7 linked regions of the Homo sapiens genome follow. Changing the gene in region 2 together with the main gene of any one other region gives a genetic interaction. Each region holds a gene or a part of one and is shown on either strand. Other genes may lie near its edges. The genes, in order: PPM1B, ETAA1, ANXA9, ETV1, TNFRSF10D, CHORDC1 and CCNDBP1.

What was found.
Region 1: changes in ETAA1 (region 2) and PPM1B are lethal when combined (synthetic lethality), as found in Homo sapiens cells (one large-scale study listed by BioGRID).
Region 3: changes in ETAA1 (region 2) and ANXA9 are lethal when combined (synthetic lethality), as found in Homo sapiens cells (one large-scale study listed by BioGRID).
Region 4: changes in ETAA1 (region 2) and ETV1 are lethal when combined (synthetic lethality), as found in Homo sapiens cells (one large-scale study listed by BioGRID).
Region 5: changes in ETAA1 (region 2) and TNFRSF10D are lethal when combined (synthetic lethality), as found in Homo sapiens cells (one large-scale study listed by BioGRID).
Region 6: changes in ETAA1 (region 2) and CHORDC1 are lethal when combined (synthetic lethality), as found in Homo sapiens cells (one large-scale study listed by BioGRID).
Region 7: changes in ETAA1 (region 2) and CCNDBP1 are lethal when combined (synthetic lethality), as found in Homo sapiens cells (one large-scale study listed by BioGRID).

Annotation. Positions count from the first base shown.
Region 1 is NC_000002.12:44,174,851-44,179,329, reverse strand, and holds part of PPM1B (protein phosphatase 1B), read right to left. Parts: intron 1-4,479.
Region 2 is NC_000002.12:67,406,743-67,410,349, reverse strand, and holds part of ETAA1 (ewing's tumor-associated antigen 1), read right to left. Parts: intron 440-3,607; coding exon 312-439; 3' UTR 1-311. UniProt on the Homo sapiens protein: Replication stress response protein that accumulates at DNA damage sites and promotes replication fork progression and integrity.
Region 3 is NC_000001.11:150,980,151-150,985,340, forward strand, and holds the start of ANXA9 (annexin A9), read left to right. Parts: upstream 1-2,141; 5' UTR 2,142-2,229; intron 2,230-2,336; 5' UTR 2,337-2,433; intron 2,434-2,939; 5' UTR 2,940-2,955; coding exon 2,956-3,030; intron 3,031-3,187; coding exon 3,188-3,284; intron 3,285-3,824; coding exon 3,825-3,919; intron 3,920-4,130; coding exon 4,131-4,244; intron 4,245-4,435; coding exon 4,436-4,526; intron 4,527-5,190. UniProt on the Homo sapiens protein: Low affinity receptor for acetylcholine known to be targeted by disease-causing pemphigus vulgaris antibodies in keratinocytes.
Region 4 is NC_000007.14:13,979,299-13,983,777, forward strand, and holds part of ETV1 (ETS translocation variant 1), read right to left. Parts: intron 1-4,479. UniProt on the Homo sapiens protein: Transcriptional activator that binds to DNA sequences containing the consensus pentanucleotide 5'-CGGA[AT]-3'. Required for olfactory dopaminergic neuron differentiation; may directly activate expression of tyrosine hydroxylase (TH).
Region 5 is NC_000008.11:23,139,325-23,143,803, reverse strand, and holds part of TNFRSF10D (tumor necrosis factor receptor superfamily member 10D precursor), read left to right. Parts: intron 1-4,479. UniProt on the Homo sapiens protein: Receptor for the cytotoxic ligand TRAIL. Contains a truncated death domain and hence is not capable of inducing apoptosis but protects against TRAIL-mediated apoptosis. Reports are contradictory with regards to its ability to induce the NF-kappa-B pathway.
Region 6 is NC_000011.10:90,212,492-90,216,970, forward strand, and holds part of CHORDC1 (cysteine and histidine-rich domain-containing protein 1), read right to left. Parts: intron 2,740-4,479; coding exon 2,683-2,739; intron 1,685-2,682; coding exon 1,527-1,684; intron 930-1,526; exon of another isoform or gene 865-929; intron 1-864. UniProt on the Homo sapiens protein: Regulates centrosome duplication, probably by inhibiting the kinase activity of ROCK2. Proposed to act as co-chaperone for HSP90. May play a role in the regulation of NOD1 via a HSP90 chaperone complex. In vitro, has intrinsic chaperone activity.
Region 7 is NC_000015.10:43,191,903-43,196,381, reverse strand, and holds part of CCNDBP1 (cyclin-D1-binding protein 1), read right to left. Parts: intron 3,640-4,479; coding exon 3,579-3,639; intron 1,968-3,578; coding exon 1,921-1,967; intron 1,656-1,920; coding exon 1,541-1,655; 3' UTR 1-1,540. UniProt on the Homo sapiens protein: May negatively regulate cell cycle progression. May act at least in part via inhibition of the cyclin-D1/CDK4 complex, thereby preventing phosphorylation of RB1 and blocking E2F-dependent transcription.

The sequences.
Region 1 (4,479 bases), about 23 Mb from region 2:
ATTTATTAGTACTTTTTCACACTGCAGATAAAGACATACCCAAGACTGTGCAATTTACAAAAGAAAGAGAGGTTTAATGGACTTTCAGTTCTATGTGGCCAGGGAGGCCTCATGATCACTGCTGAAGGCAAGGAGAAGCAGGTCACATCTTACATAGATGGCAGCAGGCAAAGAGAGAGCTTGTGTAGGGAAGCTCTCCATTATAAAACCATCAGATCTCATGAGACTTACTCATTATCATGAGAACAGCACAGGAAAGACCTGTCCCCATGATTCAATTACCTCCCATGGGGTCCCTCTCAGAACACCTGGGAATTCAAGATGAGACTTGGGTGGGGACACAGCCCAATCACACCATTTAATATTTTTTAAAAGAATGCAAAATATCTAATTAACTTCATTGTTTATATATTGAATCATTTTGGAAATACTGGATTAAATAAAATACATTACTAAAATTAACTTTGCCTATGTCTTTTTTATTAATGTGGCTACTAGAAAAATTTAAATTACCTTACATTTATATAGGACAGCACTAAATTAAAACAACAGAAACTTTTGGCTGGGCATGGTGGCTCATGCCTGTAATCCCAGCACTTTGGGAGGCCATGGCGGGAGGATCACCTGAGGTCAGGAGTTCAGACCACCCTGGCCAACATGGTGAAACCCCATCTCTACTAAAAATACAAAAAAATTAGCTGGGTGTGGTGGCAGGTGCCTGTAATCCCAGCTACTTCAGGAGGCTGAAACAGGAGTATCGCTTGAACCCAGGAAGTGGAGGTTGCAATGAGCCAAGATTGCATCATTGCACTCCAGCCTGGGTGACAAGAGCGAAACTCTGTCTAAAAAAAAAAATATATATATATATATATATATACATATATAAAATACACCACTGGTAGGAGTATAAATTAGTATAGCAACATTGGAGAGAATTTTGGAAATATCTAGTTAGGGCTATAAGATAAGGATGGCCTACAGTTCAGCCATTTTACTCCCTAGAGAAATTCTCGCATATATATATGGCATGTAAATGGTTTTAGACCATTGATTAAAATTACAAAAATAATCCAAATGTCCTTCCAAAAAAGACTAGACAAAATGTGTTCTAGCTGCCTGTGGTGGCTCACGCCTGTAATCACAACACTTTAGGAGGCCAAAGGAGGTGGATCACTTGAGCTCAGGGATTAGAGGCCAGCCTGGGCAGCATGGTGAAACCTCATCTCTACAAAAAAAACACAAAAATTAGCCAGATGTGTTGGTGCACGCCTGTAGTTCCAGGTATTTGGGAGGCTGAGGTGGGAGGATCACTGGAGCCTGGGAGGGCAAGGCTGCAGTGAGCCAAGATTGAGCCACTGCACTCTTGCCTGAGCAACAGAGCCGGACTGTCTTATTAAAAAAAAAAAAAAAAAAAGAACTGTTCTAATCATACAATGGAATACTATGCAATATATATGCAATACTATGGAAAAAAGGGACTAGAACAAAAAAAGAACTGCAAAAATATTAAGTGACAAGAACAAATTGTAAAAAAAAAAAAAATTCTGTATATGGTCATGTACATACACCTCTTAAAACAGTACTATATGCTATTTAGAAATACATACATGTAGGCCGGGCGCGGTGGCTCATGTCTGTAATCCCAGCACTTTGGGAGGCCGAGGCGGGCAGATCTTGAGGTCAGGAGTTCGAGACCAGCCTGGCCAACATGGTGAGACCCCTGTCTCTACTAAAAATACAAAAATTAGCTGAGCGTGGTGGCACGTGCCTGTAATCTCAGCTACTCACGAGGCTGAGACAGGAGAATTACTTAAAACCTGAAGGCGGAGGCTGCAGTGAGCCGAGATCATGCCACTACACTCCAGCCTGGGCAACAAGAGCAAAACTCCGTCTCAAAAAAAAAAAAAAAAAGGTTATTTCACTTTCACATTGCAATTCCAAACACTCCAGAACAGATGAATAGAAACAAACTCAATTTCCTTAAGTTTAGGACTAGCAACCACCAAAGACTTAATAAAATGTTAGATTATATAAACAAAACCAGTTACAAGAGATAATTTTTTTAAATTCAAGTAAGGTTGTTTTTGGTTATTTTTAAATCTAAGATAGATGGCCAAATGTTGAACAACTTAATGAATCTGGTCTGAATTACAGTACTAAATTTAATATATTCCAAAATTTCAAGTTCTCTTGCATATCAGCATTTTGATAAAGTAACAGAATTACAAAAATACATTAAAAATGAAACTAGGCCGGGCACGGTGGCTCATGCCTGTAATCCCAGCACTTTGGAAGGCTGAGGCGGGCAGATCACCTGAGGTCAGGAGTTTGAGACCAGCTTGGCCAACATGGTGAAACCCCGTCTCTACGAAAAATACAAAATTAGCTGGGCGTGGTGCCGCAGGCCTGTAATCCCAGCTACTTGGGAGGCTGAGGCAGGAGAATCGCTTGAACTGGGAGGTGGCGGCTGCAATGAGCCGAGATTGCACCACTGCACCCCAGCCAGTTGGTTGATTTGCTTTAAAATTAAAAAAATCAATCTTGATTCACTTTAGCAATGAAGATCAAATGAAACTGACTCATAAATGAAAGCACAAGACCACCAAGCATTAAAATAAGAACAAAAAGATGAAAGATCTTTTATGCTTAAGTTTGCAATGTTTGTATAAACTGAAGAAGAGGCCTCTTTACCAAACTGGTTCAGTAGGAAAGCAATAGAAAGAACAGAAAGCAAAAATTAAGCACCTGCTTCACACATCTAAGTGCAATACGCCCATCTCACATGCAGAAAAAACAAAGGCACGACGTTAAGTAATACAACAAAGCTATGGAAGGAGAAGCAGTGATAAATATATAGACCAAGTTGTGCACAATAAACCAAGAGACAAATTGGCTCCATTAGCCATCTTTGCTAAGAGCACAAAAGTAGCCATTACAAATCAGTACCAGGCACTATTGGTCAACCACTAATCCTTCAGCTATACTCACGTAAGAACAGAAAGCTTTTTAAACATAAATGACAACATATATTTTATAGGTATATCCCAATTATTTAAATCAGACTTAAAAAATCCTGTTCACCCTTCTCCTATTGTTCCACCTTTACTCCCATCCTCCTTTCCAGGAACTCATCTATCCAAGGATGTACAGTAAATGGAAACACCTGAAGGCCCCAAATTTCCCTCATGTCTGTCTAATGCAGGGATCTCTTTTTCTCTCTTTGGGTCATCTTTTAATCTTAAACCAGGCAGGGCATGGTGACTCACGCCTGTAATCCCAGCACTTGGGGAGGCCGAGGCAGGTGGATCATGAGGTCAGGAGTTCCAGACCAGCATGACCAACATAGTGAAACCCCATCTCTACTAAAAGTACAAAAATTAGCCAGGTGTGGTGGTGCATGCCTGTGATCCCAGCTACTCGGGAGACTGAGGCAGGAGAATTGTCTGAACCTGGGAGGCGGAGGTTGCAGTGAGCCGAGATCATACCACTGCACTCCAGCCTGGGTGACAGAGTGAGACTCCGTCTCAAAAAAAAAAAAAAAAAATCTCAAACCAATGTCTTTCTCTAAGGCACAACAATATTTCCTCTTTCCTCTTTTCAGTCTAGTTTTTATCCAATTACAGAAAACCTCTTCCTTTCCTTTTGTTAAAAATAGTAAAGCTCTAATCACAGCTTTTAAGTTTAGTGTACAAAACACACACACCCCAAATCTTCCACTCAAGTTTTTAAGCCAGCCACATAAGGAGTTCAGCTGTAATGTAAACTGTGAGTTGCTGGTTAACAGAATGCAAGATCGTCAACGACAAGGATTTGGGATTTTGTCTGTTTTGTTCAGATACTGGCATGAAATGGGGGCCTTTGCACACAGAAGGCACTCAGTGAACATAAGAATTGGCTGGAGGGTTACAGACTAAATACTATTAGACTGTTCTGAATTCTTTACTTCTCAGTGGGTTGGTAGCTCAGAGTAAATAAAAGCAGAAAGCCTCCCAAAGCTCAACAAAATCTCCTATATAATCTTAACATTTGGAGTGCTTTGAATTAATTATGTTCCCCCACCCCCACTTTTGTTTTTTTTGAGACGGAGTCTCACTTTTGCCCAGGCTGGAATGCAGTGGCGCGATTTCAGCTGGGTTGAACCTCCACCTCCTGGGTTCAAGCGATTCTCCTGTCTCAGCCTCCTGAGTAGCTAGGATTACAGGCACATGCCGCCACACCCAGCTAATTTTCTGTATTTTAGTAGAGATGGGGTTTCACCGTGCTGCCAGGCTGGTCTCGAACTCCTGAGCTCAGACAATCCGCCCACCTCGGCCTCCCAAAGTGCTAGGATTATAGGCGTGAGCCACCAGGCCCAGTCATGTCCTCTTTTTAAGGGACTAAGAAAGGCCACCTGTGTTCAACAGAAAATGCCATTTCCCCACCTCAGAGATAAATGCTTTAGTCAGAACAAGGAAAAGGAAAAACACTGCCCAAATAGGT
Region 2 (3,607 bases):
ATTACCTCTTTTTTGATGATCCTCTGCAATAATAGCATTTAAAAATATAACTACTTTCCTCTGTATAATATCCGTACATAATTGCTAACTTTCCTGAATTTCCAAAACTTTTGTATTTAATGACTTTCAAATACATGTCCAAGGAAATGTTTCATTTACCATTGCAAACATTGATTTATTAAATAAAGTAGAAGTCCAGGCTTTATAAAAGTCAGCATTACATTTCTCACAGAGAAATCAAGAAAAAAAATTTCCTATCAATCACAGATAGTTATCAGCAGTCTTCGTGAAGTCTTCCAACTAATATTTCATTAAAGAAATGAAGTGGGAGCTGCATTTACAGATGAGGCTCGTGCTTTAGCCATTCTCCGAACCAGTGCTTCTTGTCTTTTTCTCTGAATTTCTTCAGGAGAACACTTTCTATTTTTCTCTTCTTCCTCTAAAAATTCAACAAAAGATGAGTTTTACTTTTATAGCCTATAAAGTCATTCAATATGTGCTTTAATTTTTGCTTTTTTTAATCACCCAGATTTGCCATATTAGTTGGCTATTAAATCAAACTAAACTACTGAATATAAAATTCTAAGTACATAATACAGATATAATGCTCCAGTTCAAAAGAAAATCAAGCACTGATGGATCTGTCTCTATTTGATACATTCTTTTCACAGTGTGATAAAATTCAGTTTGATAGAAAACTGACTACCCACCAAATAATTCTTGTGGACAATGACATCTAATTTATATGACCCACGAATAAATATATCTTTAAAAAGGATACATTGGGATTTAAAATGTTATGTAAACTTTAATTGGAAAATAGTCAAAATATAAGGAATTAAATTAGTTATCAATCTCAAACAGTGTATATTTACATAAGATGTTATATTAATATTCACATCTACTTTTCCCTATAGAGCTATAAAATTTTCATTTCATCCACTGAGGAAATATATTTTAGAGTGATAAAATGAAATCTGTCATGTCAAACTGGTTACCTGTGATTCACTGTCAGAAATTATATTTTTATTTGGAGGATGCATTTTGGAGAAACTTTAAAATAATCTCAATTAACTTAGTAAGTTGAGGCTTTGTATTAGAAATCACTTTCTCATTTAAATGATATTTTAAGTTTAAGACTATCACCCTAATACATATTTAAGTATATCATTTATTCTGACATTTAGAAAAAGATACACAATTTATGAGACATTTCTCTTGTTAACTAACAGAGGCATTTTCAAAATATATAATCTGCCTCCCTTTCCTTTCTTGGTATAATCAGAAATGGGAGGGGGTATTCAGGCTAAGAAATACATATTTTAAATAAGTTTCCCAGATGATTTTGATGGCTTTTATTTCCTAAGCTATTTACCTAACAGACTGTAGATATTTTTTCCTAAAGAGAGACACCAGAAGATACTTTCTAATTAGCTTGACTAATTATCTAATACTTTTAGTCTCAAAGCTGAGAAACACAACAAACTCAGACTACACATCCAAAGACTTTACACTGAATTTGACTGTGTGGAAAGAAAACAGGTTAATAATCTGTAACAGCAGAAAACATAACTTCCTAAAGTTGGTCTTACAATTTGCTTGGCAATATTATAGAAAATAATTTCAAATGATAATCAGGTCACACCATGAAAATTTGATTTAGGGACTCATCCATTTTTCCCATCAGTCTTTCCTTTAACTCAATCTATAATAAAAATACACAATGAAGTCTTAAAATATTGTAAAGTACTAAGCAAAAGCTGCTCTTCTTAATCTTGATCTTACAGTGCAAGGGTCAGTAATTTTTTTTTTTCCTGTAAAGAAAGAGTCAGAAAGCAAGAATGTTAACCTTTGAGTATCTTGTTGCAACTGCTCACCTGTACCACTGTAGCAAAAATAGTTATGGATAATGTATAAATAACTGATGAGCTGTATTCAAATAAAACCTGTTTATGGACAATGAAATCTGGATTTCATATAATTTTCAAATGTCATGAAATATTATTCTCCTTTTAATTTTTTTCCAACCATTTAAAATGTAAAAATCATTTTTAGTGTGCTGGCTATACATAAACAAGCTGCAGGCTGGATTTGGACAGATCATAGTTTGCCAACTCCTGCCTGAAATAAATGTGGGAGTTAAGTGAGTTTTGTTTCAGAGATACTTCCCTGGAGAGCAGCTTGCTACATACCAAAGTAAAAGGAAGTAGAAACAATAGAAAACATCAACAAAGTTAATAGTAATTAAGAGATTCAGTACTATCAATAAGTTTAAAGAAAATATTGATAAGGTAAGCTAAAACGCAGATTATCCATAAAAAATGCAGATAGATTGGTAGATAGGAGTTTTGGGAAAACTCAAATACTCCAGGAGGTTTAGTCTTTTATAGAATTATAACTATAGTTGACCCTTGAACAACATGGGCTTGAACTGGCAAGTCCACTCATTTGTAGGTTGTTTTCTGCATCTGACACCCCTGAGACAGCAAGACCAACTCCTACTCTTCTTCCTTCTCGGCCTACTAGACATGAAGATCATGAGGATGAAGACCTTTATGATGATCCACTTTCACTTAATGAATAGTAAATATTATTTTCTCTTCCTTATTTTCTTAATAACACTTTTCCAGCTTATTGTAAGAATACAGTATATAATACATATAAGAGCATACAAAATATGTATTAATTAATTATGTTATCGGAAAGGTTTCTGGTCAACAGCAGGCTATTAGCAGTTAAGTTTTTAGGGGATCAAAAGTTATACACAGACTTTCGACTGCAAATCAGATCAGCGCCTCTAACCCCCACACTGTTCAAGGGTCAACTCTATCTGTAAATAAAGTCATGCTAGGAACATGCTTGATTTAGTTACAATATGCTCACTTTAATACAAATTTAAATACTTAAAATTATTATAGATTGAGAACAATTTTTAATATTTCAAAATATCTAGTTTGGGCTATCATGTAAAGCAAGCTTGTCCAACCCGCAGCCCGCAAGCTACCCGCAGCCCAGGATGGCTTTGAATGCAGCCCAACACAAATTCATAAACTTTTTTACAACATTATGAGATTCTTTTGTGATTTTTTTTTTTTTTTTTTTTAGTTCATCAGCTGTTGTTAGTGTCAGTGTATCTTATGTGTGATCCAAGATAATTCTTCCAATGTGGCCCAGGGAAGCCAAAAGATTGGACACCCTTGGGTGTAGAGAATTATTTACTGTAAGTTTTGATAAGATAAATTGGTATAACTGCTTCGGATAGAAATTTGGTGGTATCCATCAAATTTTAAAACTTCCTCTTGTAGCAATTTTTTAGGAATTAACAGATACAATTATACAAGCATGCGGAAATTTATGCAGAAGGATATTTACTGGAGTATTGTTTGTAATTGCAAAAGACTGCAACCAACCCAAACTTCCATCACAGAGAAACAGTTAAATTATGATACATCCACCATATATATCACATAGTCATTAACAGGACTAAAATAAATTTATATGTACTAATAGGAAAAGACAGCTATAATATATTAAGGCAAAAGCAAGTTGCCAAATAGTGGGTATACAGATTTATTAATATTTAAATAGATCTATAGGTATATATATA
Region 3 (5,190 bases), on a different chromosome or scaffold from region 2:
CTTTGGGAGTCCAAGGCAGGTGGATCACGAGGTCAGGAGTTCGAGACCAGCCTGGCCAACATGGTGAAACCCTATCTCTACTAAGAATACAAAAAATTAGCCAGGCATGATGGCAGGCGCCTATAATCCCAGCTACTCGGGAGGCGGAGGCAGGAGAATCGCTTGAACCCGGGAGGTGGAGCTTGCAGTGAGCCAACATAATGCCACTGCACTCCAGCCTGGGCAACAGAGAGAGACTCCGCCTCAAAAAAAAAAATGTTAGTATATTTAATGAAATATTTGGGTCATACTTGTACCAACAAATGATTCCTCATTTACGTGAAATTCTGATTAAGCTGCATGTCCTGTATATTTATTTATTTAATCTAATACCCCTACTTTACAGGGCACTTTTCTCTGCCACATGCAATTACACAGATTACTTTTTTTTTTTTTTTTTTTTTTTGAGACGGAGTCTCACTCTGTCGCCCAGGCTGTGGAGTGCAGTGGCGCCATCTCAGCTCACTGCAACCTCTGCCTCCCAGGTTCAAGTGATTCTCCTGCCTCAGCCTCCCGAGTAGCTGGGATTACAGGCATGCGCCGCCATGCCCGGCTAATTTTTTGTATTTTTAGTAGAGACGGGGTTTCACTGTGTAAGCCAAGGCTGGTCTCGATCTCCTGCCTCATGATCCACCCGCCTCGGCCTCACAAAGTGCTGGGATTACAGGCATGAGCCACCGTGCCTGGCCACATTACCTTATTTATTTATTTATTTATTTATTTATTTTTATGAGTTCAATAGTTTTTGGGGACAAGGTGGTGTTTGGTTACATGGATAAGTTCTTTAGTGGACACATTACTTCATTTAATCATCCCAGGAAACCTGTCCTCGGAGGCCCCAGCATGTCCCACAGCCTCCGTCTCTCTCAATCCTCCCATTTAGAGAGCTGAAAGGACTAGCGAAGCTTACAGAACATAGGTGGCAGAGCTGGATATTGAACCCTCATTCTCCAGTTCTGACACAGGTGCATGTTTTCCTTTTAACAGGAGAGAAAAGTGAGGAGCAGTGATTACCGCCACAGAAATATCCTTTCATGGCGTGTCCTCCGGCATGGTCTACTCAGTGTGGTGGAGCCACTGCAGGTCCCTCCTCCAGGGATGTAGGAATGCCAGTGAAGGCCTTCCTGAGTTGGGAGAGAGGCAGAGGAGTGAGTGGAGGCAGGGCTGTAGCTTCTGTGCCCCGCCCCTACCCAGGCTCTCCAGGGAGGCAGGAAAGAGGCTGTGTTTAGACCTGAGGGAGCCAGCTGTGAGGCTGGAGCAGTTGCTGCATGGCGGGGCGGGGGCTCCACAGGGCTGTTCACCTGCTGCTCTGTGCAGAGACAGCCTCAAGTCCAGCTGCTGGGGTTGCATCACCTGCAGCTAAAACAGCCACAGGGCCCAGGCTGCCAAAAGGCAACAGAAGCAATCTAAGAAACCAGGCAAGGGAGCCTCCCCCATCTCCCTGTTGCCTTTTGGGAGCATAGAGCTTCCCTCTGAAGGTAACACCCTTTGCATTTTTCTCTCTTGACTCTGTTCATCAACTTCCACTCCCAAATACTTGTGCCCTTCCTTCTCCACAGATATACACAATCCCTGGGCACTCTCCACCTAGGTCAGCTGGCTCTAGTAAGGCAGCAGTCAAGGGAGTTTCTGGGCTGGGACCCCCTCTGGGGTGCAGGCTGGGGTGCCCTGCTGGTATGTGCCCCAACAGGTTTTTCCCTATCAGCCTTGAAATCAGCCTGCAGCCTGTCTGACCTGCCCCCCAGGGAGCTGGAGCCAGAGGCAGAGCCAGGTCAGAAGCTGGGGCAGAGCCAGGTCAGAAGCTGGACTTTGAGACTAGGTCTCTGTGGTCCCACCTGGACCCACAGGGAAGGCAGTGCATAAAAGCCTCCTGTGTTTGAGGCTGAGCCGCTGAGAGGCTGAGTGGAGTTCACTCACATGGATTGAGGCCCAGTTCCTGGGAGAAGAGATGCTGGGCAGGAAGGTGTCTGCATGTGGGACTCTGTACAGCCCGGTCCTCTCCCACGTCTGGGAGGGGCCAGAGTCAGACAACTGCTGGGTTCGTCCCTAAGAGAGGTCATCTGACTGGCTGTTCAGCCTAGGCTGCACACACCCCCACTTTCCTCTACCAGGCCACACCGGAGGCAGTGCTCACACAGGCAAGCTACCAGGCCACAACAACGACACCCACCTCACCTCTGGCACCTCTGAGTAAGTACTGGGCCCACGGCCCCATGCCAGGAGGGCTTGTTGATTGCTTGGGGGAGGGAAAAATGAGTTTTCCTTTTCCAACATGAGAGTGCCTCCTTTCTGTCCAGGCATCCACGTACTTGCAAGAACTCTTGCTCACATCAGCTAAGAGATTGCACCTGCTGACCTAGAGATTCCGGCCTGTGCTCCTGTGCTGCTGAGCAGGTAGGCAGCTGTACAGGCAGGAATTGAGGGTTGCTTGTCAGCTGGGGCTGCCGGTGGGGGAAGATGCTATTTCGAGTTGTCTTCCACTCTGCGTGGTTAATCCTGCCACCTCACCTCAGCTCCCCTGCACTGCCCAGGAGACCCCAGCCAGGCCCAGGAAGGAGGGCCATAGACCTCAGAAGGGAGGCATCTACCGCGGACCAAGGCCTGAGGAGCTTTGGTGCTGACCCTGGCATCAGGGAGGGTTGGCGCCTGGTCCAGGAGCATTCCGCATCAATCCCCACTTCCTAAAGGAGTGGGGAGAGGTGGGGAAGGTGGGGGCTCCCCTCTTACCTCACCATTTCAGCTCCATTTCTGGCTCCAAGCCTAAGCAGGTTGATCTTTTTTTCTGCAGCAAGGAAAGGAACAGGTGACTGGAACCCAGGGTCCAGGGTCTCGGGGGGGTCATAAGGAGTCCCTGAAGGGCCAGGAAATTCAGCTCTGTGGGCTCCTGTTTCCTTCCCCAGGGCAACCAGTAGCACCATGTCTGTGACTGGCGGGAAGATGGCACCGTCCCTCACCCAGGAGATCCTCAGCCACCTGGGCCTGGCCAGCAAGGTAGGGGCTGTTGGGATTTTAGAGATCACTTTTAGTATCTCAGCTCGGGCTGTGAGAGGATGGGAGGCAGGAAAGTGGAGGACAGGCCCTGAGGTTATGCTGAGGAGGTGTAGGCAGCCTGGCCCTGGCCCTTGCCAACTACCCTGTGCTCCCACAGACTGCAGCGTGGGGGACCCTGGGCACCCTCAGGACCTTCTTGAACTTCAGCGTGGACAAGGATGCGCAGAGGCTACTGAGGGCCATTACTGGCCAAGGTGAGCCCCTTTCCCCCGGCACTTGAGACTGCCTTTTAGAGCCAATCTGTAGACCAAGGAGGAGCCAGGAAGGAGGAACTAGTGATGTTGGAGAAATGTTTGTGGAATGCCTTCATTCTTGTATGTCAGGCGCCACAGTAGGTGTGTCAAACCCATTCTCACAACACCCCTGTGAGGCAAGGCTTATTATTTCCATTTTCCAGATGAGGAAACTGGGGCTCAGGGAGATTAAGAGGCTTGCCCAAGGTCACTCAGCTCATGACGGAGGTGGTATTCTCATCTAGGTCAGCCGATCCCCCCAAGTCGTATTTTTTTTTAACCACCACACCAGGCCACCTTTGCCTTGGTCTGGGTCAGATTTGCATGCTGTTTTGACATTTTATTTGCAACTTCTTTTGAGATAAAATGGAAGTGGGGGTGATATAGCCCCTGCTCCTTTCCTTCCCAGCCCTCTCCTGGAGCGCCTTCCCTCCTCCAAGGAGTAGGAACATCCCACTATGTAAAGACCCTGCTCACAGCACAGCCCTCATCTCGGTTCAGGCGTGGACCGCAGTGCCATTGTGGACGTGCTGACCAACCGGAGCAGAGAGCAAAGGCAGCTCATCTCACGAAACTTCCAGGAGCGCACCCAACAGGTGAGGCCATGCTGACCTCCCACAGCAGTGGACTGGGGTGAGAAACCCCCTGGAGGACTCGAGAGACAGCAACAGCCGCTGAGGCCAGCCCCTGCTTCCTGGCTAAACAGGGCCTGAGATGAAAACCAGCCAAATCTTCCCAAACCTCCCCACACTTCTGGGGCCCTTCCCCTCACCCCCGTCCCTCTGCTGTGAGGACCATTTATTGTAGGACCTGATGAAGTCTCTACAGGCAGCACTTTCCGGCAACCTGGAGAGGATTGTGATGGCTCTGCTGCAGCCCACAGCCCAGTTTGACGCCCAGGAATTGAGGACAGCTCTGAAGGTAGCAGGAGGGGAGACTTGCTGGGGTGTCTGGGGAAGGGAGAAGGCTGTCAGCCTTGCTTTTGCAAGACGAGAGTCCCCCTCTCGTCGTCCCATATTGTTTCTTAGAAGGAGAAGCAGCCAGCGTCTGCCCCTCTGTCTGCCATCCTAATGACACGGCCAGTCTGAGAGTAGACTCCCAATTTCTTGTAGGCCTCAGATTCTGCTGTGGACGTGGCCATTGAAATTCTTGCCACTCGAACCCCACCCCAGCTGCAGGAGTGCCTGGCAGTCTACAAACACAGTAAGAATATAGAGGGAGGGGTCCCAGATGCTGGAGAAGGGGCTGTAGGACAGGCCACTCCTCTCCTGTACTCCCCATAGGTGAGCTATCTGGCAACCTGGCTGCCTAAGTTCTATTCCCTTGGGGTCTTTCCTCTTGCCCCCACCAGTGCCTCAGTCTCTCAGGGGAGAGACCCAGATGTGATCATTAAAAAAAGAGAAGCAGGCCAGGTACGGTGACTCATGCCTGTCACCCCAACACTTTGGGAGGCTGAGGTGGGCAGGTCACTTGAGCCCAGGAGTTCAAGACCAGTCACAGGCAATAAAGGAAAACCTCATCTGTGCTAAAAATTCAAAAAAACCAGCTGGTCATGGTGGTGTGCGCCTGTGGTCCCAGCTACTCAGGAGTTTGAGGTGGGAGGATCACCCCAGCTTGGGAAGTTGAGGCTGCAGTGAGCTGAGATCGTGCCACTGCCACTGCACACCAGCCTGGGTGACAGGAGTGAGAGCATGTCTCTCTCTCTCTCTCTCTCTCTCACACACACACACACACACACACACACACAAATAAAGAGAGAGAAGCAATGATTAACCATCTTAATCTGGAGCTCCAAGGCAGATTCCAAAGTGACAGTCCCAAAGGTACTCATGTCACCTTCCCAGCCCCTTGCCATCCCTGCCATCAC
Region 4 (4,479 bases), on a different chromosome or scaffold from region 2:
CCCTTGTCTTTCAAGTCATCCACAAAAAAGTACATGTCATTACAACGCTCAGTTTAATATCTTTACTTCTAATGAAGTCTACTAGAGAGGCAACGAAACAGCTAAAATCTGTACATTAGCATTCTCTCAGCTATTAACACAACATATTTTTTTGACACTGCAGAAAAAAATGTTCTAAAAGATTCATAAATTACAAGGCGAAGGGTGTGCTTTCAAGTAAGTCTTCATATCAAAAAAATTACAAGTGTTTTAAATATATATTTAATAAATAACAGCAAGTACACAGATTCAAATCCTGCACATTTTTCCCATTATATCATTGTTTTGGTTTTCCCTCAGAATTAACAGCTAAACAGATATAACTATTGAGATGCAAATATATCAACCACAACAATTACTGGGCTTTTAAAAAGCCAACATTTATAAGAATCTAATAAAAATATAATATCCCTTTACAGGAAAAGTTAAAAATAGCTGGTGAGTAACAAAAGTATACTTGTAACTGAATATGATGGTATGAATGTTCTAAAGGTCTTTTGTTTGTTTTTGTAGCATCGTAAGCAGATTTGCAACTTCCTAATATATGTCACTGCAAGAGCAGCACAGACTCACTGATGGGTGTGTGATGTGTGCTGGAATATGTGTGAGGAAAAAAGGGCCAAATTTTAGGAGTAGAATAATCTAGAAGTTATACCTCGCAAATATACAGAAAATAGCTGCACGATAACAATCTGTAAAGAGTAAGAATAAGAATTCCTATTTCTGTTCTAACTCCTTAACATACTGAATAAATACTTCACACTTATTCCTGAACATATTACAGAATTTTAACAAAAAACATATGACTCACATTTTCACAGAAGCTAATCTTAAGAAACTGAATAGACCAAACGAAGCAGCATGCTACTTAAATAGACAAAGGCTTAAGTATACCTCTAATTTCAAGTTAGAGTAAACGGAAAGCAGTTAACTAAAAACACAAGTTGGATCTAGGCAAGGAAAATATGACAAAGTATTGCCACACTTGTATCATACATTTCCTTTTTTCTTCAATTCAGGGGAATACTGTGAAGGAGCAAACTGCAGCTGCCTGAAAACTTGCAGCAAGCCATACCAACTCCAAAGTTGAAAATTAACAATAGAGGTCAGCCTAAAAAAGCAATGTTTTTTCCACTACTATCTATTATAAACTGTGCTGGATATAATCACCTTTGGGGAATGAAAATGTTTCCCCACACTATGTAATTAAAGACGAAGGGGAAGAGGAGGAAAGGAGAAGGGGAGAAAGTATATACCAAAAGACCAATAAAATGCTTTCAAGGAGATTAAGCATGTGGATTTTATTGGTAATAGCTGGAGCGGCTCTATCAGTTCATTGCACGTTAATAGACCAGTTGCCATCAAGTCTCAGGATGTCGGCTTTAAAAGGGCAGTATCTGCACTCTCAGCTATTTGTTTTACCTAGATTATTATCCAAAGTTGTTTTACTGTTTTCTGTCTTTTTGCTACGTATCAATGCATATTATCAGAAAGAAATTCATAAAAATATTAATCATGACCTATATGTCACAAACTCACCAATTCTCCTTTTTAATTTTAATACTTTTCTTAACTAATATTGCCTTAGAGATGGGTAATTTTAAATATAGCTTGCCTTTATGTTATGCTTATTTTTAACTTTCAAATGAAATAATAATCATTACTTAAGAAAAAGTAAGCGATGAAAAAGTTTCCAAGGTTGGCTGCAGGGAAGCGAAAACCCTCCTATTCTTACAAACTATGTGCCTGTTGGGTTTTTTTTTAAAGCTAAGGAAAAAGTGGAAGAATTACAAATAAAACAAACGTCAAGTATAAAAGGGGTTAATATTTAATTAAAACCAGTTCTATCCACTGTAACAATGACCTGGAGCCAAACAAGGCGGAAGATGTATGAGTCATTCTTTCTGCCCGTGAATGAGACAGCTGATCTCCTCAGCAATTCCTCAAGACAAGCAGGCAGAACTGGAGTTCTGCCTCCATTCACAAAAACACAGTCCAGCATATGAGCCATGTGGCCCAACCACAATCTTTTCATGTCACACCCTTCCAGGGAGCTAAAGCAAGTAAACTTGGACTTGCAATATAAACACACCAATTTTATTGCTCTGTCTCAGAGCTCAGATCCATTAAAGGAACACATTTAAATAAATGACGTTTACAAAGTTACATACATACATACATACATACATACATACATATATATATATACACACACACAAATACATACATGCATCCTGCTTTACAGAGTAACTTGTTACAGAAACTTGCATGTATAAAACTAAGGAAGAAAAAAGGAAAAGACAGAAAGATGCAAAGAAGGTTTCAAGAAAGGGAAAAGAAAAACCATTACGGAAATGCCTTATTTTTCTTTTCTATTATCCAACTATTTTTATCATAAGAATACTGTAGATTGTTTGCTGAACTTTGTAGCATTTCTCTTTGAATCAAAGAGTTAGAAACAAATTTCTCATGAGAAATTTAAATTTTATTTCAAATAAGAAGTAAAAAAAGAAAAATCCACCTTCCTACAGTGGTATGCTGTTTAATCCTAAATTGAAGCTACAGGCCATGGAACAAAATAATCATGAGTCCACTAAGCTTGGTTTTATACCACATCCACTTTTAACATTAAAATGATTGTACAAATGTAAAAGCATTAATTATGCAGAAGTATAAACATATTTAAACATACAAAAAGGAGGCAACTTTCCAATGACAAAACACCTTTAATACTTGATCAAGGCATTATTTCCATATTTCTATATTCTTACTGTAACAGTAAAGTTTTAGTCGTTGTGTCAAATCAGCTTCAATTCCTAACTAAAACTGACCTGCAGTAACTTGAAAACTTAAGGGAAGCTCAGAGCCAACTAGCCGTTGTTTCTAGCCAAATATTTTCTCTAATGCTACAGAGGTCTGACTCTATTATTATTTTTTATTATAACATTATACACAAATCAAAGGGAATAAAGTTATACTACAAAATGTAACAAACTGCACATTTCCTATAACTGAAATAGAAAAGCTTAGCAATATTTTATTTATTAGGATCCTCTGGAAAAACTACACTATACTACACCAAATCCTATTTTTCTATTTTTAAAAAAAATTTCTATTTTGTAAATAAAACATGGATGAAAAAACATTTATGCAATTCCAATGAATGTTTAGAAATAAAATATACTTTATCTGCTGTCTTTAAGTCAAACTCAAATGGGAAGTCTTTCTCTCATATTTTAGATTATTTTCTAGCACATCAAAAAGAGGGGTGATAGCCCATCCTCTCCCCGCCCACACACACATGAAATTATTGTTGTTCAATTATAAGAGATTATATGGAGTTCTGTAATTCAATGCTTAATTCTAAATTCATGTTTTATGTAAACCACATAAAATAATGTCGTTTTTAAAGCCTTTAATCCTTATTGCACCAAGTGGGGGAAAATAATTCATGAGCACATAACCAATTTTATGTTCCATTAAAAAAAAGTAGGATTTCTGAAAAATAAAAATGAGTGTATTATGACTACTGTATATTGTGGATGACATTACACATAGTAAGTAACAATAGCACATATTACTTATGATTTTGAATATAAATTTACCATCAGCCATTAAAGCGAATTGAGGGGAAAGTAATGACATCTCTGCTTTTAAGTTGACCTGACTGTTGTTTGAAGGTCACATAAAACCAAAAGGAAAAAACCCTTATTCGTATGATGTAATAAGCTTTGCTGTAGAAAGGTTGTTCTTGCAGATAAAACTCCTACTCGAAGTGTGGAGGCAGCACTAAACTTGACTCAATACAAAACCACTGGAAAACATTTTACCCTGAAGACAGAGAATATTGTTGATGAAAGTGAACCTGAAAGAACATCTAGACCGGAAACAAAATAACAGTCAAGAGAGCAGCTACACATTTACATCAGATATATACTGAAAATTATTATTTCCCTTTAAGTTGTGTTAGTAGGTGAGCTTTAAGAAGCAAATTTGGAAGAATACAATCCTGTCTTAATTTTTTACATCTTTCTATTTTTGTTCTGGATACACAAGAGGTTCCATTTTAACTATGACTTTCAGGTTGTTAAGAATAAGACATCACCATGATGTTGATAGAATTGATATTTAAACTCATTATTTCATGGGATCAAATAATTGCAATTGCCTTTCTGTCAGTAGCAGTCTAATTTAAAAGACAAAGAATCAATAAAGAATTGCACATAGTAAAATTATAACATAAAGTGACTATGGCAACATTTTAAAATTGGCATATTCCCTGACTTTTTTTTTTTTTAACTACTGTGGTTACTGAAAACATTAACTTTGCAGTTTTCTTCAGAATAAGATAATTGTTTTAAACTGTGTTTAGATGTTAAAAAAAAAACCTTTAAATTGCAGTGTTATTTCTTGGGAAATGATATTAATGTAAAGTTATAT
Region 5 (4,479 bases), on a different chromosome or scaffold from region 2:
ATTTGGTTTGTAGCATACACCAGTGGAACGTAGGTGCCATTTCTTTTGTGATGCTGTGTGAAGTGAGGAATTCCCTGAATTGTTGTGAGTCACTGTCTCCTTCCTCCACGCCTGTTTAGGAACTGATTCTCCTATTTTTCTCTGCTTTTGGCTCCTCTTTGATCACTTGTCAAATACTTACCTAGACAAGGTTCACTTTCCACCCATTTTCTTCCTTTCCTATAACTATACCCCATTTTTTTTAATGAAGGGAAGTATAAAAAGGTAAGGAAATAAACAAAAAATATCAACAATTACTCCACGCTGCTGAATCGCATTGCACCTTTGTTTTGTAATTTGTAGAGATCTGATCTTGCTATGTTGCCCAGGCTGGTCTCAAACTCCTGGCCTCAAGTCATCCTCTCACCTTGGCCTCCCAAAGTGGTGGGATTACAGGCATAAGCCACTGCACCTGGCCGCGCTGCACATTTTTTGAAAGTGGTAAATGCAGAGCCACACATCTGCCACACTATAGAAAGGTGCTCAGTCGGCCGGGCGCCGTGGCTCATGCCTGTAATCCCAGCACTTTGGGAGGCCGAGGAGGGTGGATCACAAGGTCAAGAGATGGAGACCATCCTGGCCAACATGGTGAAACCCCACCTCTACTAAAAATACAAAAAATTAGCCGGGCGTGGTAGCGGGTGCCTGTAGTCCCAGCTACTCGGGAGGCTGAGGCAGGAGAATGGCGTGAACCCGTGAGGCGGAGCCTGCAGTGAGCCGAGATCACGCCACTGCACTCCAGCCTGGGCTACAGAGTCAGACTCCATCTCAAAACAAAAACAAAAACAAAAAAAAAACAAAGGTGCTGAGTCATAGTGGTAGTCCCCTAACACTTCCTCCAGCCCCCAGCCCTTCTTCATTCAGGTGAATACAACAGATAATTTCTTGTGATTCTTTGTAGAAATCTTTATGCATATGCCATGTATATTCATACAAGCGTATGTACATTTTGTTTACATTACAGGGATTACTTTACATATAATACACTGCCAAGGAAACTTTTTTTCATTTTTTATTTTTCCTTTTTCAAATTTATTTTGATTCAGGGGGTACATATGTAAGTTTGTTTGATGCTGAAATTTGAGGTATGAATGATTTTATCCAGGTTGTGGGCACAGTATCCAACAGTTAGTTTTTCACCCCTTCCTCCTCTCGCTCCCTCCCCGCCCTGGTAGTCCCCAGTGTCTATTGTTGCCATCTTTATGGTCGTAAGTACCTGATGTTTAGCTACTACTTATAAATGAGAACACGCAGTATTTGGTTTTGCGTTCCTACATTAATTCACTTAGGATGATGGCCTCCAGCTTCATCCATGTGGCTGCAAACAATATGATTTCATTCTTTTTTATGGCTGTGTGGTAACCTATGGTGTATATATGCCACATTGTCTTCATCCAATCCACTGTTGATGGGAACCTAGGTTGATTCCATGTCACTGCTATTATGGATAGTGGTGTCTTTTGGTAGAATGATTTGTTTTCCCTTTTTTTTTTTGAGAGGGAGTCTCGCTCTGTCACCCAGGCTGGAGTGCAGTGGCACAATCTCGGCTCACTGCAACCTCCGCCCCTCCAGGTTTAAGCAGTTCTCTGCCTCAGCCTCCAGAGTAGCTGGGATTACAGGCATGTGCCACCATACCCGGCTAATTTTTTGTATTTTTAGTAGAGACGGGGTTTCACCGTCTTGGGCAGGCTGGTCTTGAATTCCTGACCTCGTGATCCATCCACCTCGGCCTCCCAAAGTGCTGGGATTACAGGTGTGAGCCACCGCGCCCAGCAGATTTGTTTTCTTTTCTATGTATACCCAGTAGTGGGTTTGCTGTGTTAAATAGTAGTTGTTTTAAAATTCTTTGAGAAATCTCCAAACTCCTTTCCATACTGGCTGAACTAATTTACATTCCCACCAAAAGTATATAAATGATCCTTTTTCTTCATAGTCTCGCCAGCATTTACTGTTACTGGCTTTTTAATAATCGCCATTCTCACTGTATGAGATGGTATCCCACTGTAGTTTTGATTTGCATTTCTCTGATGATTCATGATGATGAGCATTTTTTCATATGTTTGTTGGCCACTTGTATGTCTTCTTTTGAGACATGTGTGTTCATGTCTTTTGCCCATTTTTAATGGGGTTGTTTTCTGTGTGTTCATTTAAGTTGCATATGGCTCCTGAATATTAGACCTTTGTCAGATGCATAGTTTGTAAATATTTTCTCCCATTCTGTAGGTTGTCTGTTACTCTGTTGATACTTTTTTTTTTTTTTGAGATGTACTCTCGCTCTGTCACCTAGGCTGGAATTCAGTGGCATGATCTCAGCTCACTGCAACCTCCGCCTCCCGGGTTCAAGTGATTCTCCCTCCTCAGCCCCCCTAGTTGCTGGGATTGCAGGCACGTGCCACCATGCCCAGCTAATTTTTGTATTTTTAGTAGAGATGGGGTTTTGTCTTGTTGGTCAGGCTGGTCTCGAACTCCTAACCTCAGGTGATCTGCCTGCCTCGTCCTCTCAAAGTGCTGGTATTATAAGTGTGAGCCCCCACACCCGGCCTGTGGAGAGTTTCTTCTGCTGTGCAGAAGGTCTTTAGTTCAATTAGATGCCACTTGACAATTTTTGTTTTTATTGCATTGCTTTTGAGGACTTAATCATAAATTCTTTGCCATGGCTGATGTCCAGAGGGGTGTTTTCTAGGTTTTCTTCTAGAATTCTTATAGTTCATGGTCTTACCTTTAAACTTTTAATCTACCTTGAGTTAATTTGTGTATATGGTGAAAAGTAGGGGTCTAGTTTTCGTTGTTCTGCATATGGCTAGCCAAATATCCGAAGCATCAGCTGTTGAATGGGGAGTTGTATTATTCCATTTTCATACTGCTATGAAGAAATACTTGAGACTGGGTAATTTATAAAGAAAAAGAGGTTTAATGGACTCACAGTTCCACATGGCTGGGGAGGCCTCACAATCATGGCCTGAGGTGAAAGATGAGCAAAGGCACATCTTACATGGCGACAGGCAAGAGAGCGTGTGCAGGGGACTGCTCTTTATAAAACCATCAGCTCTTGTGAGTCTTATTCACTATCACAAGAACAGAACTGGAAAAACCAGTCCACGTGATTCAGTTACTTCCAATAATTTTTTCCAATTCTGTGGAAAATGACATTGGTAATTTGATAGGAGTAGTATTAAATCTGTAGATTGATTTCAGCAGTATGCCCATTTTAGCCATATTAATTCTTCCAATCCATGAGCATGGAATGTTTTTCCATTTGTTCATGTTATCTATGATTTCTTTTAGCAGTGTTTTGTAATTCTCTTAGAGATCTTTCACATCCTTGGGTAGAGGTATTTCTAGGTATTGTGTGTGTGTGTGTGTGTGTGTGTGTGTGTGTGTGTGTGTGTCTGTTGTAAATGGGATTGTGTTATTGATTTGGTCCTCAGCCTGAACATTATTGGTATATAGATATGCTACTGATTTTTTTTCTTTTTGAGACAGAGTCTTGCTCTGTCACCCAGGCTGGAGTGCAGTGGCGCGATCTCAGCTCACTGCAAGCTCCACCTCCCAGGTTCACGCCATTCTCCTGCCTCAGCCTCCCCAGCAGCTGGGATTACAGGCGCACACTGCCACGCCTGGTTAGTTTTTTGTATTTTTAGTAGAGGTGGGGTTTCACCGTGTTAGCCAGGATGGTCTCGATCTCCTGACCTTGTGATCCGCCCTCCTTGGCCTCCCAAAGTGCTGAGATTACAGGCGTGAGCCACCGTACCCAGCTACGCCCCGTTAATTTTTGTATTCTTTAGTAGAGACGGGGTTTCACCATGTTGGTCGTGCTGGTCTTGAACTCTTGACATCGTGATCCGCCTGCCTCGGCCTCCCAAAGTGCTGGGATTACAGGTGTGAGCCACGGTGCCCGGTGCTACTGATTTTTATACATTGATTTTGTATCCTGAAATTTTGCTGAAGTCGTTTATTAGTTCCAGGGGCCTTTTGGTGGAGTATTTAGGGTTTCCAAGGTATAGAATCATATCGTCCATGAAGAGTTTTCACTTCTTCATTTCATATCTGGATGCCTTTTCTTTCTTTCTCTTGCCTGAGTGCTCTGACTAGGACTTCCAGTACTATGTTGAATGGGAGTGGTGAGCGTGAGCATCCTTGCCTTGTTCCAGTTCTCAAGGGGAATGCTTCCAGCTTTGGCCCATTCAGTATGATGTTGGCTGTGGGTTTGTCATAGATGGCTCTTACCATTTTGAGGCATGTTCCAATGGGAACTTTCTAATGTTTTTTAACATCCAAAAGAGCAAACACCTCTTCCATACTTTTTCAAAATGTATTATTTTACCCAGATAAAATTTAGAATTAAAAGATTTCCTCCATCCTTCCCTCCCGAAAAACCTCAGTTGCCGTTTTATCAATTCGCTTTAAAATTAAAAATTAATCTAGAAACACTGAATATTT
Region 6 (4,479 bases), on a different chromosome or scaffold from region 2:
TATAGTTCCGGGGAGGGTTAGGGAGGAGGATGGCTTGAGCCCAGGAGTTAAAGGCTGCAGTGAGCTATAATGCCACTGCATTACAGCCTGGGTAAGAGAGGGACTTTTCTTCTTAAAAAAAAGAAAAGTATGTAAAAACTGATATCCTCATAATTGTTATAATACCACCAAATGAATTTAGGATAAAATATTTAGTTTTTCTCATCTCACTGCCTTTGTCCTTTTTTTTCAAAAAGTCAATCTCAAGATCCTCCTGCCTCAGCCTGAGTAGCTGCAACTACATGAGCACACCACCAAACCCAGCTAATTTATTTTTTTTGGAGAGACAGGATCTCTTTCAGATTGGTTCTCAAACTCCTAGGCTCAAAGGATCCTCCCTCCTAGGCTTCTCAAAGTGCTGGATTATGGGCTTGAGCCACAGTGCCTGGCCTCTCACTGCCCTTTAAGTAAAATAACAGCCCATCATTTAAAGAAAAAATTAACTCATACTATTATAGTACAGACTGTATTATATTACTAAAGAGATTAAGAATGAGCCATGACTGAAGTTTTGTCTTTTCCCAATTATTTTTCTAACTGCTAAACTGGCCAAAGCATTCAATGGTCTCCTCTAACTATGAAGATGGAGAGAGAATAAAATCATCCTGAGTAGTTTCCTTAGCAATAATCTGTACTCAGAGTGCTAATGAACAAATAAACATCTAAAGTCTCTTAGGGTTCTTATCTTGGTTCTATATTATTCAATACTCTATAAATTTATTTAAGTAGGATCAAAGGAGAATAAAGGGAAAATCATGAGTTCATAGCATGAATAAAAATTACAATAAGTGCCTACTTGCAGCCAAAAAAAAAAAAAAAAATCACCTTTTTTTAAGTCCTGTAGTTTGCTTCTAAAACAATTTAGTACTCAAGTGTAGCACGAAGAAGACCTGGTTCAACAAAGGTACTCAATATACATGTGTGGGAATACAGAGTCTGGTTATCAGAAGGCAAGTATGAAGAATCTGTACAACTCTATTGCACAATGAGCAAACGCTTTTTTAAGACTACTTTCACAAATATGTCATCTAAATCAAATGCATTAAAAATTGACCAGTAGTAATGAGATTAACGGTAGTTTTCAGGCATCTGAAAGTAAAGATGGATGATTAGGCCTCTGCATTATTTTCTACTTCAAACTCATGCCATGAAAAGGAAAACTGCTTCAAAGAATTTTACCATGCCACAGTGAAAAAGATGCACTCTAAGGCACAAGAAAAATGTGACTTCCCTACCCTGATGATACATGTCCCTGTAATTATGACAGTACAATATGCAAATCTGTTATGTAGTTATATTGTGTACATGCTCTCAAGTTGAAGAGAAATAAAAATTTAAGGCAGATTTAAGGGAGAAACCAAATGGTTCAAAGCTTGGTGGCCTACATAGTAGCTACAAATGGTATCATGCTAAATCATAAAGGAAAGTACCATGCACAAGTGCTACTATTCAAGTGTGACAAAAATATGTAACTGTATAAAGTATACCTTGGTCTTTTTATTGCTTCTACTGGCTTAGGGGCTTGAATGATGTGTTCCTGAAATTTGGGTTTTAATTCACATAGCTCCTTCTTCTCAGTAGTCTTGACTTCAGGTTTGACTGGCTCAGGTGGCTTCTCACTATTATGTCTACCTTTTGTACAGCCCTGTTAGTGAAAGATAATTCATTAAGAGCTATCTATTTTACATTTCATGATAGAAATATTATCTTTTCAGTTCTTTATTGATAGTGATTCTATTTCATGTTTTCTCCAGTTTCAATACATTGATTTTAAGAAATTAAAAACAGAACTCCAAATTTGCCATATTTGCTGAATCTCTGAATGACGGCTTTTTTAAAAAGTCTTTGAATTACACTTCATAAACATCTACTTATTCTATTAAAAATATGGCATAAACCTCTTGTTTACAGAAGAATTCTGGAGAATCTCACAAAGAACTGTAAAAAATAGTTATACAGAAAAATCTGTTACTCGAAAGGCCTCAATTTGAGACCTAGTTCTCAACATACTTATTAGTTATATGACCTTAAGCAAGATAATCTTTTTAAACCTCCATCTCCTCATTTGTAAAATGGAGGTAATGTCAGGTAAGATATTTTCTGAGAGAGTTAAATAATAAAATGCCTGGCACATTTGGCAGGTGATAACATTCAACAAACGTTAGCTACTTTTCTACTACATTCTACTGAATTATACATACTCTTTAACACCTCTGAAATGATACAATCAATAGCATTATCAGTTTGTTAGTAGCTTTAGTTTTCTTAGTGGTATATAAAGTGGTTTTATATAAAAGTGGTATGTAAAATATTTCAACAGCATCTTAGATAAAACTTTATCGTTCCTAACTGAAAAGGCTTTAAATTGTTGCTTACCACTTTCTCCTTGATGTTCTTTCAACATAACAGAAAGAACAAACCTAAAATGATAAGCAGGTAACTGATACCTTAAAACGTTAATTTCCAAAACAGATTCTTTATTTTACAAGCTGTGGAAGGGAGATGAGCTGCTTTTTGAAAGGTGTTATCTGCAAGTTGATGAAGACCAATCAATCTATATCAGAAATCAGACTCCTCAAATCTGAAGCTTTCTATAACATGTATTTTTAGGAAGATAATCTAGAAAAAATAATTAGTACTTACTACAATGCTTAAGAAATCAGAAAAATCAGTTGTTCTTCTCTTACAGCAAGACCAACCCTATGAAAAACAAGAGAAGGAAACTAAAAACTCTATTTGCATGAGAAACACGACCCACTAAAACACTCTACTTGCACTTATCTACTTGAATCCTGCAGTAACTTGCGTATAGAGTGCAAAATTTCAGTGTTGCATATAATTCACCTAATCAAGTAAAATGAATATTAATCTTTGATTTTTAAAAAGCCAATTAACCAATGTTAAAGTGATTTGTGCTATGCCCTATCATCAAGGGAAGCACCTTTATAAAACAAAAACTGTTTCTCTTTTCAACAATCGTGTCTGCTTTTTTTTTAGAAGAAAAACATGTTATAATTCCTAAAACTATCATATTTAAAGAATATTCAAAATAAGTATAGGTATTTTACTTTTAAAATCTATTAAGTTAAAGATAGTAACTATCTTTAGTTAATTTTAATTTCACAATAAGCATTCTATTTTCAGAACAACAAAGATTAATTAACACAGCAGCTAAAGCACTATTAAGCCTTTGAAGGTGATCTTTTCAGTGAGAAGCATAAAGACAGAGAAACTATTAGTATTTGTGATTTTTGAACAAACTATCAAGTAGTTTACCAAAAAATGGCTTTAATAATTATCTCTAAATTCCAATGTTTATAGAGCATAGGGAAACAAAAATGCAAAATCTCAAAACTTGGAACTTCAGATTAAGATTTGGGACTAAATTCAGATTAAGATGCAACTTTGCACACATCCGCCTGGACCTCGCTGATTTTCAAAAGACTGCATAAAAATATGGTAGTGATTTTTCTCATTATATGCACCTGTAGGTTCTTTTTCTTTAAAGGTAATTTCAAATATCCTATAATTCAAATTTTCCTTTAATTTGAAATTTAATTATCTTTTACTCCGAATTGAGATGTAGATCAATTACTACAACCTTAAATATAGGGTTTAAATAGCATCAATAATATAGTCAACAGAAAAGTTATTCTATAAGAGAAAAAGTTTTACTGTCTTAATCATGTACTAAATTATGTCAGATACTGTGATACACACATGTAAAATACAATACAGGCCAGCTGTTCCCAAATGCCAATCTGGATTCTATGCTAGTCTTCAGTACAATGAGAAAAGGAAAGATAAATTTAAGTTATGTGAATATAAGGTTGCTAGTTGTCTTTTTTCAGCAAGATTGTCCTTTTCTCTGAATATGCCCCTTCTAATATTAAAATAGTATTTCTTTTGTCAATGCAATGTTTAACTTCTTACTTGGTCAACTAGTATCCCTGTATTGATGTATACGCATTTTGTCTGAAATCTTCTGGACTGTGAAATCCAATAATCTTGGAAAGTCTAGGACTTTAAGAAATGGTTATAAAATAGAGACCACAATAAACACTACAACTGCAAAAGAGAGAGAAGCAAAAATACTTCAAAGTGAATTCATTAAGACTTGGAGTGATTAACAATGCGGTAAGAGAAAAAACGGGCAATGGACCAAATGATCAGAAAGTCAGTAGTATCATTACTAGGAGCAGTAAAGTTGAGAGGCAGACTACTTTTGGAATAAACGGTACACACTAGAAACTGGTTTGATGTTGCCAATGAGACACATAAATAGAAATATGTTGTAAGAGCCATCGGCGTAGAGGTGACATTTGAGAAAACCAATGAATGAACTGAATGAGAGAAAACAGCCAAAGGTTACCTTTAAGAGCTAAGAGGAAAACAGCATAGGGAAAAAAAGAAAAAGACACAGTAAAACAAAAATATCAG
Region 7 (4,479 bases), on a different chromosome or scaffold from region 2:
CCTGGGAGGCGGAGGTTGCAGTGAGCCGAGAGTGTGCCACTGCACTCCAGCTTGGGGGACAGAGCAAGACTCCATCTCAAAAAAAAAAAAAAAAAAAAAAAAATTACATTGATCAGTGCTTTCCCTGATCATTATCCTTAAAGATCCAAACATGACTGAACGAAGTTATACAATACAGGACCTGAGAGAATAATTCAGCTAGAGGTAAGTCTTTATATTAGAGTTCTATATTCATTAAGTATCCCACAATTAAAGTCTGATGTTAATAACATGAATTTGGTCCAGTAGAGAAATATAAAAGTATATAAAAAATAGGCTCTATATGAAAGGATAAAAGAACTAGACTGTTGTACAATGTTATTATTTTGTTTATGTTATTTTGTTGCCTTGACACTCTGTCAGTTTGATTTTAGTTCCTTCCCTTCATGACACTTGTTAACAATACAAAATGGCACTTCAAAACAGTAAGCTAAAACTCATTTGGCTTAAGGAATTTCAACCCCAACCCCAAGTATACATTAGTCACTCAAAGAATGACTGCTGTTGCTGATTATACCTAAAGACAGCAGAAAGGCATATGTTATGAATTACACCTACAAAAGGAAGATGATGGGCATGAGAGGTGGCGGAGACCTGTAGGACATGCATAATGCCCTATTCAGCTCACCAGAATATACATCATTATAGATTTACACTGCTTTCCAATATGCAGTCTTCTAGACTGATGCAAAAGTATAATTAAGTGGTGATGGTTTTGCAAAAGGATGAACTGAAAAGGCCCTTAAAATTACATAAAATCTCTTACACACTAAAAAATTTTTGATTTATAAAAATTTGGTATTTACATTTGGGGACACACGTAACCAAGGACAACACAAGTATGTATAAGGAAAATAAATCTGTTCAATAAGGTGGGCAAACCTAACAAATGAGCTCAATGCCAATATATTTTAGAGACATGGAGTAATCTGTGATAATATTCAGAAGGACTTGCTGATAATAATATATAACATGGTGAAATACTAAGATGAATTTTGGAGTCATCTTTTATAAATAAAGTGTTTTGTTCTAAATATACTTCTGATTAGAATCAGATTTTTAAACCTACAAACCCAAATGAAAGCAATGTTCTAGTCTCAATCCACTGTATTTCTGGTAAAAAGAAACTTTGGAAGGGCACTCATTTAATCACTGGCAAGTTAGCATTTTATTGAGACCATCAACATCTTTACAATGAAAACAACATACTTTACTGCAAAAAGAGAATAAGGCAGCTTTCCTAGGAATCTCTGAGAAATGACTCAGGAATGAGAAATCATGCAATTATTTTTCATATATAGCACAGAAAAATATACGCATATGGTTTATAAATAGGTGTCAATCTGGCCTAACCAACAATCTTTGGTAATAGTGTCTCTTGCTAAATATAGATAGGCACTCCCTTTCAATCCAGCAAGCATTCTAGCTCCATTTTAAAAGCAGGTATCAGAGCCTGACCATGACGATGAGAGGGGAAGAGAGTACAAATGAGCCTGAAAAGTCATAATTCAAGTTCACTCTGAGTGAGCTCCTTGATTCTATTCATGCAATGATCAATGGCATTAATAAGTAAAGGGATCCAACTATCTTCTGGCTGAGGGGTCACATGACTTGCTCTGTGAATAGAATAGGAAAGAAGTAAGTTAAACTTATTAGGATGTCAAGGGAAAACCTATCCTCAGGAGGGAGCACAGGGAAAACTAAAATTTTTTTAAAGGGAAGCTTCTTTGCAGAATCTCAGCTGCCCCACAACTGAAGCTGAAAGAAAATCCCACACCCACCCTTTCCCACTCCTTGAAATGGGAGCTAGGGAGTTGAGAACGTCTGGACAGCAGTTCCGTTTTACTCACAAAAAGCTATCTGAGAAGTCTTCATACTTACTTTGTAATTTCAAGTGCCTTCTTTAAAACAGATACAAGTTTCGCAGACTAGAAAAGAAACACAGAAGTTATTCACCCTGAGCCCTACCATAAAAAGGTGAGTTCAAATATTTTTAAAGACCCAAGTAATAAAAAAATTATTTAGAAAAAGGACCTGAAGGAAGTATGCAAAATTTAAAATGCTGATTAGGTTAGGGTGGCAGGATTACGGGTTCTTTTCTATTTAGCAAGATCTTATTAATACTATTGCTATAACATTTTAATAAGATTTTTTAGATCTAAAATATTTTCAATTTAAAAAAGGACAGAAAAAGGAAAATGTAACCTGAATTGGTCCCAAATGCTGATAGCTCAAAATATAAAGCAGAAATGACTAAGGTTCCTTTAAAAAAAAAAAAAAAAAAAAAAAAAAAAAAGCGCATTAAGAATTTTAAGAACACCAATATAAGGATAAGATGGAGACGTTTAATATAAAATATCAATACATATAAGATGCATATGCAGTACACATTTTAAAATTGCTAGAGCAGATACTATGTTTGGGATAGCTGACTAGGCATATTGCTAAAAATGTTTATTTCTTAGGAAGTCAATTTTTTAAAAGTTAATGCCAAAAAAATGTTAATGCCCAAAAGGATCCTATTCTACTTCAAGGTGTTTATACATCATGAAGACACATCTGATGAATCTAATTTCCATTATCCAATTTATCAAATATTACTAGAATTGATACATTCAATTGTAAAATATAAGCCATTTGGCAGTTTTACTGCTCTTTCCAATAACATTAGAGAGAACAGAACTCTCTCTAGTAAAGGGCACAGAACCTCAAAGAATACAATAAAATCAGATTTTTATAAGAAAGTTGACTCTCCATAGTTAAATCACACAATGTGTTTGTATTAGAACAGAGTATGTTTCTGGAACACTTATTTCTGCCTTGTCTAGAAATCAGAAACATGTGACCTCAGCCAGCTACTTCATGAACAGCTGAAGTTCAATCTAATTGCTGCCTAGTCTAGAAATTAGAAACTTGTGACTTCAAGTTGAGAAGTTCCTAAATTACCGTGTAATTAAGACTTTCTTTTCAAAGAAGCTTTTTTTTTTTTTTTTTTTTTTTTTTTTTTTTTGAGACAGAGTCTTGCTCTGTTGCTCAGGCTGGAGTGCAGTGGCGCGATGTCGGCTCACTGCAACCTCCACTTCCCGGCTTCAAGCGATTCTCCTGCTTAAGCCTTCCAAGTAGCTGGGATTATAGGTGCATGATGCCCGGCTAATTTTTGTATTCTTAGTAGAGACAAGGTTTCGCCATGTTGGCCAGGCTGGTCTCAACTCCTGACCTCCGCCTCCTGGAGTGCTGGGATTACAGGTGTGAGCTACCGCGCCCAGCCTTAAAGCATCATTTTCTAAGGCCTTTGGGCTTTTCTGAATGATTACCCAGGTGATTATGGAAGAGAGAACTACCAAAGCTCATGGCTATTATAATTCAACTTCAGTGAATATTTATCAACCCCAAACGCATGCAAGAACTGTGACATTACTGTTGTACTTCCATCCAAATGTGACTAATAAATATGTACCCTATAGCTTACAGGAAATACTAGTGATTAGTGAAATTCTGCCCATTTGTTCTGTAGCTATTCCCTCAAAGCCAGTACTTACATTGATTCGCACGGTCAGGTGACACATAGGTGGATATATGCTCAGAGCCAAATCATCCACACTAAGAGCAGAAAACAAAAGTAATCATTAACAAAAAAACGCAGCCAGGTTGTTTCTAGTACACAACTATGGATGTCAACAGTGAGAAACTGTCCCAGAAATGCCTGTCAGTTTTTAAAATTGGGCAACTGGGCAACCAATACAGAATGAGTTCAACCAGTCTTTATTGAAACAACCATACCCCATTTCACTAGGAAGCTGGGGGGGAAATTCCCTTGGTTCATAGTAGGGTGCATGATCAATTCAGTCAAAAATGTGAGGATGTGAAACCATCAGTTTAATAACTAATATAGGCAGGCAGCCTTCATCAGTGGAAGCTAAAATTAGAGTAAAATATACCTTTACTAAAGTGAGCACCACTTTAAGTGATCAAATTTAGTACCACCAATAATGAGGCAAACCAACATCATGTGCCTCCCTAATATGATAAAATGAGATGTACAAAACACTTAATTATATGATATTCTTGCAAAAATGAGAACTAACAATCACGTGAATCCAGGTTGTTGGATATTTTACAAGACAACTGTCCTGGTTTCTTTTTAAAATGTTGATTAAAAAAGACTACAAAGGATAGGAACTGTTCTAGATTTCAAGAGACTAAAGAGATGACAATTAAATGCAATGTGGGACCTTGACAGAACCCTGAATTTATATGACATTTTAGATACAGACAACTGGGGAAATCTGAATATTAGATAATACTATTATATTCAATGTCAAATTTCTTGGATGTGATAATAAGAGTAGGAATAAGAGTACTTCAGGAGATACATACTGAAGTATTTAGGGGTGAAATGTCATTGCTGTCTGCAATTTACTCTCAAAACATTCTGGAATA